Homo sapiens: one gene and its partners. The protein of the gene in region 4 interacts with the protein of the main gene of each other region in a biochemical or structural test. Each region holds a gene or a part of one and is shown on either strand. Other genes may lie near its edges.

What was found. The genes of interacting proteins can lie anywhere in the genome.
Region 1: the proteins of CNOT9 (region 4) and CNOT4 form a complex in vitro, tested with the Homo sapiens proteins (one study listed by BioGRID).
Region 2: the proteins of CNOT9 (region 4) and GIGYF2 form a complex in vitro, tested with the Homo sapiens proteins (one study listed by BioGRID).
Region 3: the proteins of CNOT9 (region 4) and TNRC6A form a complex in vitro, tested with the Homo sapiens proteins (one study listed by BioGRID).

The regions. Positions count from the first base shown.
Region 1 is NC_000007.14:135,364,199-135,367,102, forward strand, and holds part of CNOT4 (CCR4-NOT transcription complex subunit 4), read right to left. Parts: intron 1-2,904. UniProt on the Homo sapiens protein: Has E3 ubiquitin ligase activity, promoting ubiquitination and degradation of target proteins. Involved in activation of the JAK/STAT pathway. Catalyzes ubiquitination of methylated RBM15.
Region 2 is NC_000002.12:232,787,831-232,791,330, reverse strand, and holds part of GIGYF2 (GRB10-interacting GYF protein 2), read right to left. Parts: intron 634-3,500; coding exon 416-633; intron 324-415; coding exon 161-323; intron 74-160; coding exon 1-73. UniProt on the Homo sapiens protein: Key component of the 4EHP-GYF2 complex, a multiprotein complex that acts as a repressor of translation initiation. In the 4EHP-GYF2 complex, acts as a factor that bridges EIF4E2 to ZFP36/TTP, linking translation repression with mRNA decay.
Region 3 is NC_000016.10:24,802,651-24,806,150, reverse strand, and holds part of TNRC6A (trinucleotide repeat-containing gene 6A protein), read right to left. Parts: intron 1,975-3,500; coding exon 1,832-1,974; intron 1,447-1,831; coding exon 1,300-1,446; intron 1,138-1,299; coding exon 1,000-1,137; intron 547-999; coding exon 418-546; intron 1-417.
Region 4 is NC_000002.12:218,592,839-218,595,209, reverse strand, and holds part of CNOT9 (CCR4-NOT transcription complex subunit 9), read right to left. Parts: intron 1,683-2,371; coding exon of another isoform or gene 1,637-1,682; exon of another isoform or gene 1,363-1,636; intron 1,103-1,362; coding exon 934-1,102; 3' UTR 1-933. UniProt on the Homo sapiens protein: Component of the CCR4-NOT complex which is one of the major cellular mRNA deadenylases and is linked to various cellular processes including bulk mRNA degradation, miRNA-mediated repression, translational repression during translational initiation and general transcription regulation.

The sequences.
Region 1 (2,904 bases), on a different chromosome or scaffold from region 4:
CCTAGCAAGATAAACTTGGTTAGGATTTTGCTCGTGAGCTCAGAGCCCCTGAAGTGAGGAAAAACTTGCTCAAGGATCAGGAGAGGGAGGTTCTTGTCTCTCTATAGCCTCTTCACCATTATGGGTTTGTAAATCAATAATCCAGTTTAAAGACTCAATGCTCCAGAGCACAATTTAGTTCCAGCTACATTATGAAGTTTCACTTAGTGAGGCATTTAGCCAGCTGAGCTGATTTACGCTATAAAAAAGCCAAGTCTGCAAAGTCCAATATAGGAGCTTATTTCTCAGCCCACAAATGGAAGAAAAGTCATTTTATGAAGAATAAACATAAGCAATAGAAAAAGAAAAATAATTAAGTCCTTCTTCATTATAAAACTGGCAATGTGCTTCAGAAGAGAAAAGCAGTAATGAACAGGCTTTTGAATTTGAAAAGAATGTATTTCCATTTAGTCACTAAGGCCGAGGAGGCAGGAGCTGATACCTTCTAGATGGAATAATTTCCAACACAGTCTGCCTGCTCTACTCCAACAGTTCTACCAATCATTCACAGCCTGAGTCCCGGAGTCCTACAGTTTTCTGGGTCTATTTATGAATAGTATCAAACATGAGAAGACACTAGCAACATAGAAAAGGCTTTTTATAAATTGTGACTAAACTAACTTGATCTACTACCATCCAGAATCCACATAGTATAACTAACTGGTCAGGGGGAAAAGGGTGAAGTATAACAACTACCTAATTGTTTAACAAATACTTAGATAGTTGTTTTATTTTTGAAAATAGCAATGTAAGTCAAATTACAAACTGGAGTTTTTGAAAAAAGCATAGAAAAATATTTCTGATTCTACAGAACTGATTGGCAATCAACGCTGAGAAGGAGGAGGAGGATGTTCTAACAGGCACGATCTATGCTGCTTAGCAAAATCAGAATTTTCTTTTTGAAATTTTGCTTTGCACCAACCACTGATCAATGCCAAATTATATCATGTTTCAACAAGTGAAGCATTTAACTCCATTGACCTTATTTATAAAAAGATAAAATACTACAACTAAACTGAACGAAGGTCATCTCTGAACTTATTAAGATGAAGAAAAAGCACTCTAGGCTACACAAAACAAGACAACAGAAGGGAAAATAAATTCTCCAACCCTACTTTCATTTCATAATTGATGTAATTTACTAAACCTCACATTTCTTATATTTGCATATTATTTTACATTTGTATGTGTTGTATGGTTTACAAGGCACTCTCATAGTCAATTATTTCATGTGATCTTCACAACAGCCCTGAGAGGCAGGCAGACAAGGATAATCTGCATTTACTAGATAAAGAAACAGACTCAGGAATAATTTCCCCAAGTTCACAAAACTTGTTATTGAGAACTTGAACCTGAACCCTGTCCAAAAAAAAGCAAGCAAGCTTACTCTCTCGATCTACTCTGTACAGACTATTAATTTTTTAAAGGGTCAAATATTAAAGGGAAAGCCCAGGGGAAGACCCATGATTGAAAGGAGGCAAAAGAGAAACAGAGAAGCATTATAGTGTGTCCACTGGCCATGATTAGCAGAGAGATATTGTGACTAAAGGAAGAAACTGGACTTTGCGGCCAGGAGAAAAAAATTCTGCTCAAGAATACAATCACTAGTTTCCCCCTGGCTCCCTAACTACATGAGACACAAACAAGATCATAAATATAAGTCCTAGAACACTCTCAATCACAGTAAGGTTTACGGCTATGGTACACTCTAACTTTTAAAGCAGTCCAACTGTCATGCTGAATAACTTAAAATAGCTTCCAATTAGGCAAAAGCCAAACAGGGAAAACTTCCTATAAGAAAAATAAAATCCCCCAGAAATAAAAAGATGATGTATAACTACATGGGAACATTTTCAGGAAGATAAATGATCTTACACCGAGTGGCTAATGTCCCTAAGAAGTCCATGCAAATGATCCTCCCTCTTCTACTGAATAGGGAGAGAGAGAATATCCCATAACTCAGAACAATCTGCTCCTAACTTTTGCTTTACCATTTAGTGAGCAATGAAATTGAGGAACATTTAATTTTGCATTAACAGAATAACACTTGCATTTACATAAATCTTATTTGAAAATTAGTAATAAAGTCAAAAGACAATAAAGGCAGAGGGGTTATATGACAATTCTCCGTACTTCCCACTCAGTTTTGCTGTGAACCTAAAACTACTCTAAAAAAAAGTTTGTTTTAAGGGACATTTGTTCCTGTAATTGTAGACTAATCAAATCAAGCAAGGGTATGTTAGCCAAAGAAATTCACATATGGCGCATGATGCAGAAACAGTGAGAAATTTAGATCCTCCCAGGTGCACTATGATTACAGGATACCTTGGGAAATAAATTAGCTAGTTTATAATGCAACAATCTTGACACCCCTCCTCCCCCCAAAAAATCATGTGCCTTGACATTTTGGGAGCCTGACAGCATGGATGTGGCTTACAGTAAAGCTGCAAGTGTTACAGGGAAGTAGAATGATGCTTTTAGCTCTTGGAATAGGATCATATTCCATCTAGCTTAGAAGAAAAGAAGTTTATTTCACTGTTTTTTCCACTATTGCTATGCCAAGTGCTGGCACAAAGAAAAGGTGAGAGAAAGGAAATCAGCTTAATCCTAATCCCATCAAAATAGCTCATCTCAGTCCGGCCATACCTGAAGTCACCTCCTTGATTCCCTATTCCCTCCCAATGACCCAAATTTGTCTTGGCTGCGAGGGCTTCTGGCAATTCCATTCTTTGAAACACATACAGCAGGGTTTATCAACCTCATCACCACTGACAGTTTGAACTACATAATTCTCTGTTGTGGAGTGCTGTCCTAAGCACTGTGGGAGGTTTAGCAGCATTGCCGGCCTCTACCCACTAGATGCTA
Region 2 (3,500 bases), about 14 Mb from region 4:
TGAGACTGATGGTCTGAAGGAGTACCTGGTCTAGCAGATGATGATGAGGTCTGGGGAGTTTCCTCACTAGCTTCTGGAACACGAAGTAATCTTAGTTGAACTTACGAAAGTTTTGGTTTGATGGAGGAAAAAAAAGGCAAAGGGCAAGAAGAGGCCTTACCAACTCCTACTCTATCTGTTTTCTCTCCTTCTTTCTTATTTGTCTTATCGGGTTCTTTGGCCTCTTCATTATGGCTACCCTCAGAGTCAGAGCACTCCTCCCCTTCGTCCACAGGCCGGAAGTCCATCTCCTGCTCTTCTGGAATAGGCTCTTTCTGTACTTTCTGTAGAAAGAGAATAAAACCAAAGATCAACAGCAGATTTGGCTTTGGTATAAGGTTAATGCTGGTCATGACATTTAAAACACGTTTCTTACTTTTAGAGAAAGGAATGCTCCAGATGAGTCAAATGTACCCATTTCTTCTTCAGCATCCTCTAAGCACCATTCGGGCAAGCTATCCCTGTCATCATCTATGCTCCCACTGCCAGAGCGAACCCTTCGGTAACCCCGTTCATCATCTCTATCTCGAAAATCAAACTCAAACCTCCGACGTCGTTCCATGTGTTCCCGCCAGCCTGCAGAACGAGGGCCATCTGAGATGAGAAGGAGGACACAAACCTTAGAAAAGTTTTATGACAGTATTTGAATAAGAAAATCAGGAATAGAAAATAAAGGAGAAAACTACAAGTGACCGCAAACTCAAATGGACTGACCTAGTAAAGAGAACATTAGGCAACTAAATGAAGTTCAGAGTTCAGAGTATATGTACCATTACGAGATGACAACAGTACTTAAGTACTGAGCCAGGCAACATACTCTAAAGCTTTAAAAGATAAATCTAAAATGCAGTACATTTAAAGGACACTGTATTCCAAGTACGCACTTTCAGTAAGTCCTAGGTACTTGATTAAAATACTGATTAGCCGCCAACTCCTCATCCAGACTTAATGCACTAGACATCCTTCCATACTGAAGTTTACACCTTCCTTTTGCCCAATCTTAAAGCATTTTCTTTCTTCCCATGAAAATATCATTGTTTGTGGATAAAATCAGCTCCCTGTGTTGACTTATATCAAACTCATCATGACTATTTATTAATGCCAGGTTCCCACTTGTAATTCTGATCCTCCCCCAAAAATTCACAAAATTACAGTGCTGAAAGTTGTCACAGAGATTTTATGAAGTTCACTATCCTAATTTTATAGTTTAAGAAGAAACTAAAACTTTGCCAGCAGAAGTAACTCGCACATGGCAAAGTAGAACTAAAATCCAATTCTGCACCCTCTGCTGCTTGTTCCACAATAACATACTTACTCCTCTCCCTTCTTTCTCATCTCTTAATTCTCCCTATCCATATAATACCCCTACGGACATTCCCAAATCTACATTTCCCAACAGAAGAAAAGATTGCCTAATAATAAGAGATCCTACTTAAGATATTTTTCTAAAAAAAAGAAAGGGAAACTCTTGCTAAAATCTGACAGACCTGAGTCTAAAAGAGTCTTAAAAAGAAAAGCAGGCTTTAACCTATTAGAATTTTCCATCCTTGACTGCTTTCTCTGTGGGGGATAAGAAAAAGAAATGTGGCCAGAGTTAAATGTTCTCACTATTGAGACAAACTTTGCAAAAACCAGCAATCTAAAAATCAAATTGGAAAACAAAGGGCAAAACGTTAAAATGCCAAATACAGGTAGCATCTGATAAGCCACTCACAAAAAAGAAATCTTAGTCCCACACTCCCATCCCTTCATATAAAAACAACAAAACACTATTTACTACTTCCTATGAGAACTAAGGAATTTTATACTCAGACTGCTTACGTGGAAACCTAGAGCCATTATGTGAAAAGAGTCTTCATGATCAAATGAATTCCAGAGCCCTCTGTACTGCTTTCATTTCTAACAGTCTAAATGTACATCATGACAGGAATCTATCCTTCTAGGTACCTGGCTCATGTTTCTCCTCTTACTGACTTTCCTAGGTTCAGCTCCCAGACTGGATGCCTCCCTGTCCTTAATGTTCCCACCCCCACGCACATCCAGCCGGAAGCCCTATTTTATATCCCATAATGTTATCTTATCAGTAGTTCATAAAATTTTACTCACGAAACTAAACATAGCAAGTAAGACATGCAAGGTACTTATTAAGGCTGACTGCTGATTTACAGACCCTACATCTAAACTAAAGTTGGATACTATTTTCATAAAATCAGTTAAAATAATTTAAAGTTTTACTCAAATCTTAATAAAAGATTAACCATAAACTAACAAACGTTAAGAGTTAACATATGAAAACTGCTATAATCAGGCTATACTTTGAATATACTGGGTTTAAAAAGTGAATCGTATTCTTTTTTAAAATGCATTTACACTGTTTTTTCAGACCCAAACTTTATATTTGGGGGATCTTTATATCCCCCAAACTGTCTTTTAAAAATATATGGATTTCAGCCACAGGTGTGACTGAAAAAATATATATGTATATGGATTAAAAGTTCTGGAAGATACACAAGTTGATGACAAAAATGATATGAAAGTCAAATATTAGGGGGAAAGAAAGATTCAGAAAAGATGAGAAGAAGATAATATATAACCAAATTCTAAGTTGTTGGGTGGGAGGTACTTTGTTAAACTCCCTTTAATAGAATCAACATCAGACATTTGGGCTCAAAAAACACAGTTCATCTTCCAAAACATTCACCTTGTTTGTTTTTGACCAGCTGGAATTTCTTTTCTCTCTCAGCCCAGATCCTATCCATTCTTCACTGAATGCTTGTTGGGAACATAGTCTACAAACCCTCTGCCTACGGACAAGCTCAGCATAAAATGCAGTGATGCCTTTTAGAGAACTATAACATCTGGCCCAGGTCACAGACTAATGAAAATTGTCTAGACCTTGTGATGTAAACAATGCCCACTAATGACAGAAAACCCACCCAAGAGGCAGCCATGAAGAGTTGGTATAAAACCATCCTAACTCTACCCAAACATTAACTTCAGTATGTTTCTATCTACCTACCACTTCCTTAAAATACTCTGAATGCCTGTTATAATGTCTACCCAGATCTAAGCTAGTGGTTTTGCTAATAACTTGATTTTTAAAAGTGAAAACAGTTTACTTATCATAATTTCCTGTATTAAAGGTAAGCCCCTCTGGCACATGGTTGATAAAATACTGTCATACACATGAAATTCATAGGGCATTCCACATATACTCTGTGTGCTTCAGTTTTGCATGACCCCACAATTGGAACTACAGTTGCATCTGATTATCATGAGGCATGGAATCAGCACTGTGGTACAGGATGAACTTTAACACAAAGCACTAGTGTCTTCAATTACTAGCATATCTAATGTCCAAGAAGAACAGTTTGAGCATTTTTAAGAGACAAACAGAAGAACTTTAAAAGCCACTAATCACTACTATTGTCTCTCCTTCTTCTAAAGTTAGAAGGACATAA
Region 3 (3,500 bases), on a different chromosome or scaffold from region 4:
TTCCAAATGACGACAGCAGATGGACCTACAGAGGCACGACGTGATCTAGCCAATGCCAACATGTCTAGCATTATCTAGTACCATCTCTTCCTTGGACTCTCTGGTTTCTAGTCACTGCTGAAATTCAGTCTTTAGTTCAATCTAAACTTTCACTTCAACAGAGAAACTTTTCCTAATCATCCTACTAACACTAGCACCCTGGACTTGGCTGAGGTTTCCTCTCACAGCATTCTGCACTTCTTCAAGACATTCTTCACAAATGTTCACGATCTGTCTCCCCCGATAGACTGTAAGCTCCATGAGGACTATGACTACGCCTGTTTTGTTTAGTGCACTATGTCCCGCACAGAGTCTAGTGTTTGGCATACAGTAGATGCTCCATAAATGTGTACTAAGAAAGACTATGACTCTGCTTACCTGTAACTGGGAGATCTGAGAAAGCTGGTTTAGCTGGGATAGCTGGTTCAGCATGGCTACCTGTTGAGGGCCAAAGAGTGGATTCAGGCCACCGTTGTTTGGTGCATACTTCAGCAATGAAACTGGAACCTTAGGATCACAATGGTAAGTTAATGATCTTGATAAAATAACTCACACTAACTACACGTACTGTGTGTTTTCAGTTGTCAATAGAGCAGTTAAATTTGTGGACTATTCATTGGGGGTTATAGTCTTTGTCTCTGTCTTACTAACTGACCACTCACTTACACTTTTTCGTGGGTTAAGTAAAAGATGACAGAGGTGCATCTTAAACTAGTCAATTTTACTTTGCTTTTGTCCTACTCTCAAGAATGTTTTAAAGAAGAAAATGGTAAATTTTGGATTTAAATTATCCTTGACTTTTCCTTACTACAACCTTTTTTAATAGTTAATTCAAAACTAGCTGAATCTCAAAGATGCCAATAAATATGATAATGCTTAGTTAGCCATTTTATTCAAATACAAAATCATGCAAGATCCTTTTTGCAGGTAAACAGGAGAATGTAAGGAAAGCTTATTTACCTGAGGGGAGAGTAATGGAGGAGGCACTTGAGCACGGAGATTAGGCTGAGATGAACTAAGAGGTTGTGCTGGAGGCTGCTGCATGCCCCGGGGTTGTGCTGCTGTGTTTCCAACACCAAACATACTGGGATTGCCATTCTATAAAAACAAACAGCAACAAGTAACAGTGGGATTCTTTAGGGACAAACATCTCATTACCACACTGTACTATGATTTAAACACAGTAACTACATGTAAGAGAGATCTTATTACTAATACAAATCATTCAACTGAGAGCCTAAAATACACATCTGGACTTACCTGTCTAACAGAATTCAAGTTTTGCATACCCAGCCCTGCTATGGAGCCAAGGGCCTGGTTAGGTAGTGCACTATTTGAAGGGGGAAGCTTCATGCTTTGACTGGACATAAACTGCATGTTTTGGGATTCATCTGCTACAATGCCATCCTGATTGGACAGACAGAAAGATGTGCAACACCAGCCAAGCAAACAAGTGGAAGGGAGAAATCATTGCAGGAACAGAAGAGAAGTCACATGACATTCCAGCATCAACAGGAAACAGGTAGAAAACAGAAGAGATCGGATTAGTGTTAATTCTAGAGCACACAAAAAGAGCCAAACATATTTCATGGGATTAAGAAGAAAAATATAAATGCAACCTCTATGATAAATTGAGACATAAAAAGACAGTGAACTTCAAAATCCAGTAATAAGATTTGGTAGTGGATTGTAACACTTTATATTATATAAAAGGTTTTAAAATATTAGTGTGAAAATTACGCTATGAAGTATACTGGTTTATCAAGTCAGAGGTAAAAGTAAAAAACCTTACCTTATCAAAATAAGGATTGCGCTCCATGGAAGACTCTTTGGAAATCTGAGGCCGAGAACCAGGGCCTTTCCCGACCGTTCGATTGTAATCACCAATATTTAGGCTATGTTTATCTATCTCCATTCGTTTGTCTTGTAACATTCCTAATAAAGGCAGGAGACTGTTATCAAACAGGAAGACAACCCAATTGGTTTCAGATAAATTTACAACAAAAGCAAAACACTCACTTTCCAAACTGAAATGACTTCAGCCAAGACAAGGGTATGTGAAAAATACACTTCCATTTCATAAATTTTGCATTCCTCACAAATGAAGTCGCAATTAGGAGATACTGTTATTTTACTGAAATAATTAACTTGAAATAGACTAGTAAACAGAAGGTGGCTGGCTGATAACCTCACTTTTTTTTTCTTTTTTATTTTAGACAGTCTCGCTTTGTGGCCCAGGCTGGAGTGCAGTGGTGGGATCTCGGCTCACTGCAACCTCCACCTCCTAGATTCAAGCAATTCTCATGCCTCAGCCTCTCGAGTAGCTGGGATTACAGGAGTGTACCACTACACCTGACTATTTTTTGTATTATTAGTAGAGATGTAGGTTTCTCCATGTTGGCCCGGCTGGTCTTGAACTCCTGACCTCAAGTGATCCGGCCGCTTCGGCCTCCCAATGTGCTAGGATTACAGGTATGAGCCACCAGGCCCGGCCTCGTTTTAAAAGGACTCTTAGGTTACATAACTTAAGGCACCTTTAGCCATCTCTAATCTGCTGAGTTTTATAATACAGGTAAGTTTCCATTAACAAGTAATAAAAACAATCAACACCCACTGTGATAAACCACCATTTAATAAATGCCTGGTTTATGTCAGTCGCCATTATAAGTGCTTTTTCTTTTCTTTTTTTTTTTGAGAAGGGGTCTCACTCTGTAGCCCAGGCTAGAGTGCAGTGGTGTGATCTTGGCTCACTGGAACCTCTGCCTCCCGGGTTCAAGCAATCCTCCTGCCTCAGCCTCCTGAGCAGCTGGGATTACAGGCACCCACCACCACACCCAGCTAATTTTTTTATTTTCAGTAGAGACAGGGTTTCCCCATGTTGGCCAGGCTGGTCTCAAACTCCTGACCTCAGGTGATCTGCCTGCCTTGGCCTCCCAAAGTGCTGGATTTACAGACGTGAGCCACCGCACCTGGCCTATGAATGCTTTATGTGTACTAATTTAATGTTTGTAACTCTACTGTTATCGCCCTTTTAGCAGATGAGGAAACTGGACACCAGACAGGGTAACATCTTCCCCTCTCTTAGGCTTTGCTCTGTCTGCTCCTCTCCTCATTCTGACTGCTCTGCAATAAAAAATGATCTTCTCTCCTGGAAACTTTTTTCCTGCAAAATCTTTGCTGGATATAGCCAGCTCCGGCCCAAAAGCTACTGCTCTATTTCAACAAATCTTTTAAAAGTGGACAATGCTCTCTACCACCCCTCCTCACCATCTGTCCATTCTGGTTTCTCTTCCTCTACCCATGCTGAGCTCACCTCGGGTGCTTCTTCAATGCTGGGATACTCTGCGGCTGACAAAGTAGACTCAGGGTCTCAGTCTTTTGACTCTCTCTGTAAACTTGCTTTCCTTAGACTTCATTCACTATCAGGGTATCAGCAGTCACTCCCATTCAAGTGATGCCCA
Region 4 (2,371 bases):
AAACTTGGATTGAAGGTGAGGTCCACCACCGCCCCTTGTCTCCCAATACAATACCCTTCCAAGACAGCCTGATTAATTAAGACATCTGTTTTAAGTTTAATAGAAGGGAAGTTCAAAAAGGGAAAGCACTGAGATTTGGGAAAACTAGCAGCTAAAGCCAGAAACAAGGTTAAGGTCCTCGTGGCATTCCGGACTGGGAGTAGAATGGGAGAAGGAAGGGAAACAGGTGGTGGGTTCCTGCTGTACTTTGGCTTTACATCTTTCCCCTGCCCTCCCATTTCTCCCAACAGCTTGATGCAGCTATTGGCCTGCCAGAGGGGATGTAATGCCCAGACCAACTTTTTATTGAGCTTATGCAGCTAACAGACTTGTAAACAGTGCCAGTCGACAAAGTTTTGCTGAATATTACAGCTTGTGCCCACTAAACACACCTCTCTCTGAGATTAAAAACAAAAAAACCAAAGTAAACAAATACTGAGAGAGAATGAAGAGACATATCTTGAGTCTTCCAGAAAGGCAAAATAAAAAACGCCACATGGCTTGGTCCCAGGCGTTCACCATGCCTAGAGTGCTGCTGCTATCACCACTGTCTCCCCTCCCTGCCAGTGGCTAGGTAGAGGTAGGGGAGAAGGGTCATCTTGGACATGCTGCAAATACAGCATTTGCTGGTGTTGACACCCTCCTGGGGCTGTGGTGGCAGACTGCTGTGTCAGGAGCCCATTTCCTGGGAGTAGCAGAGGGAGCCCAGGTCCTCAAGACAGCCTGAGATGGCAGCCCATACACCTCAGCAGGGGTACCTTGCCCCTTTTCTCCAGTGCGGTTCAGCATTGAGGTTGTCTATTCCCAGTCGGTGATAAAACCTGAGCTGTTTTTCTCGTAGGTTCCCCCTCCTTTCCCCAACTTGGGGGAGTAGTGGGAGGGAACAGGGAAGGATCACTGAGGGGGCAGGGGGATACCCCGGGGATCGGTGACCTGGCCCTCTTGCAGGTTCTTCACCAGTTGTGCAAGCCAGCGTTTCGTGGTGGTGTCATCTTTTAGCACCTGGGCGAAGGTTGTGTCTTTCAGCTGGTCAGGGAGGCACTGTCTGAGTGCTTCACGTGCCCTACATCAGAAACAAACAAACCAACCAGGGAGACCAACAAATAAACCCACATTTTGTGGACAGGGAAGAGCCCCCTTCTTAGACATAAATATTTAGAATACTGTGAATCTATGGCTCCTTAAGAAGCCATTAAAATTCTCTAAAGCTATATTAGGCATAGGCTTAGAGATCTCCAAAATCTGTATCCACAAATATTTTCTGAATGATGCCCCAATGTAGAATTTCATGAAAAAGCAAAATTAAAAGGTTCAATAGTTTACTTCCATTCAAACAGCTTTCTGATTTATTAAATACTGTCAAAATACTCATGTTAGAAATATATGGATTATGGCAAATAAAATAATTCAAAAATCAGTACATTAACAAGGATATCATCAAACTTATGATAACTTAATGAATTTTAATTCTATACTAAGTTATCAATTTGTGTCTTTACAGAAATTGCTTCAGTTTTATGGTTAAAAACCTTAATAAGAGATGAGCAGTGAAAACAAAACTATGGTAGCAGTATTATCAGATGAACTTTTAAACGTTTCATTTTCTTTGAAAAGATGACCAGCAGAAAGTCAAATCTGAAAACCTAAAAAAGGTAAATGTTAACTATGTGTAGAGCTATTTTAAACAAAGTTATAGTTTTTGCACTCAGACTAGTTTTCTTTGTACAAGTAGAATTTTAAATAAACACATTTTTAAACTTTAGTGAAACAAGAACCACTGAAGAACAGGATAAAATGGTCAACAAACAGGTAGGGCTTGAATAAACTCAGTGGCAGGAGACTGAGTTCACATTAAATCAAATCAAGCTAGCTCTCTTCCCAGGAACACAGAAATTGCTCCATTACGTGGTTTAGCAGAATATGAGCAGGTTGCTTTCAGCATGAATTATGGATTTACAAAGCAAAAGGTCAAACATTTCTAAAATGCATTATATCTACAGTGTATGATTTCTGGCAGAAAGATTATGAACATAAGCAGATAAAATAATTAGCTCAAGAAACTTATAGGAATCAAGGACAGAATTGGAAATAGAATTCAAGAGCCCTCTGGGCTGTGTTCCTTTTTAAGAGATCTTTGAAAATATACTTCTCTCTCTGACCACGTAGAGTAGCAACAGAAAATTCAAACAACAGGAGTAATGCATCATAAGGTTTCCTTTGGAATCGCCTAGACTCTCTGGAATTTCACAGTAGGATGGAGAGTTACAGTGAGAAGATGAAACTGATGGCTACTAAAATTCAGCATTTCAGATTTTTAAAAGAATCTAAGTTC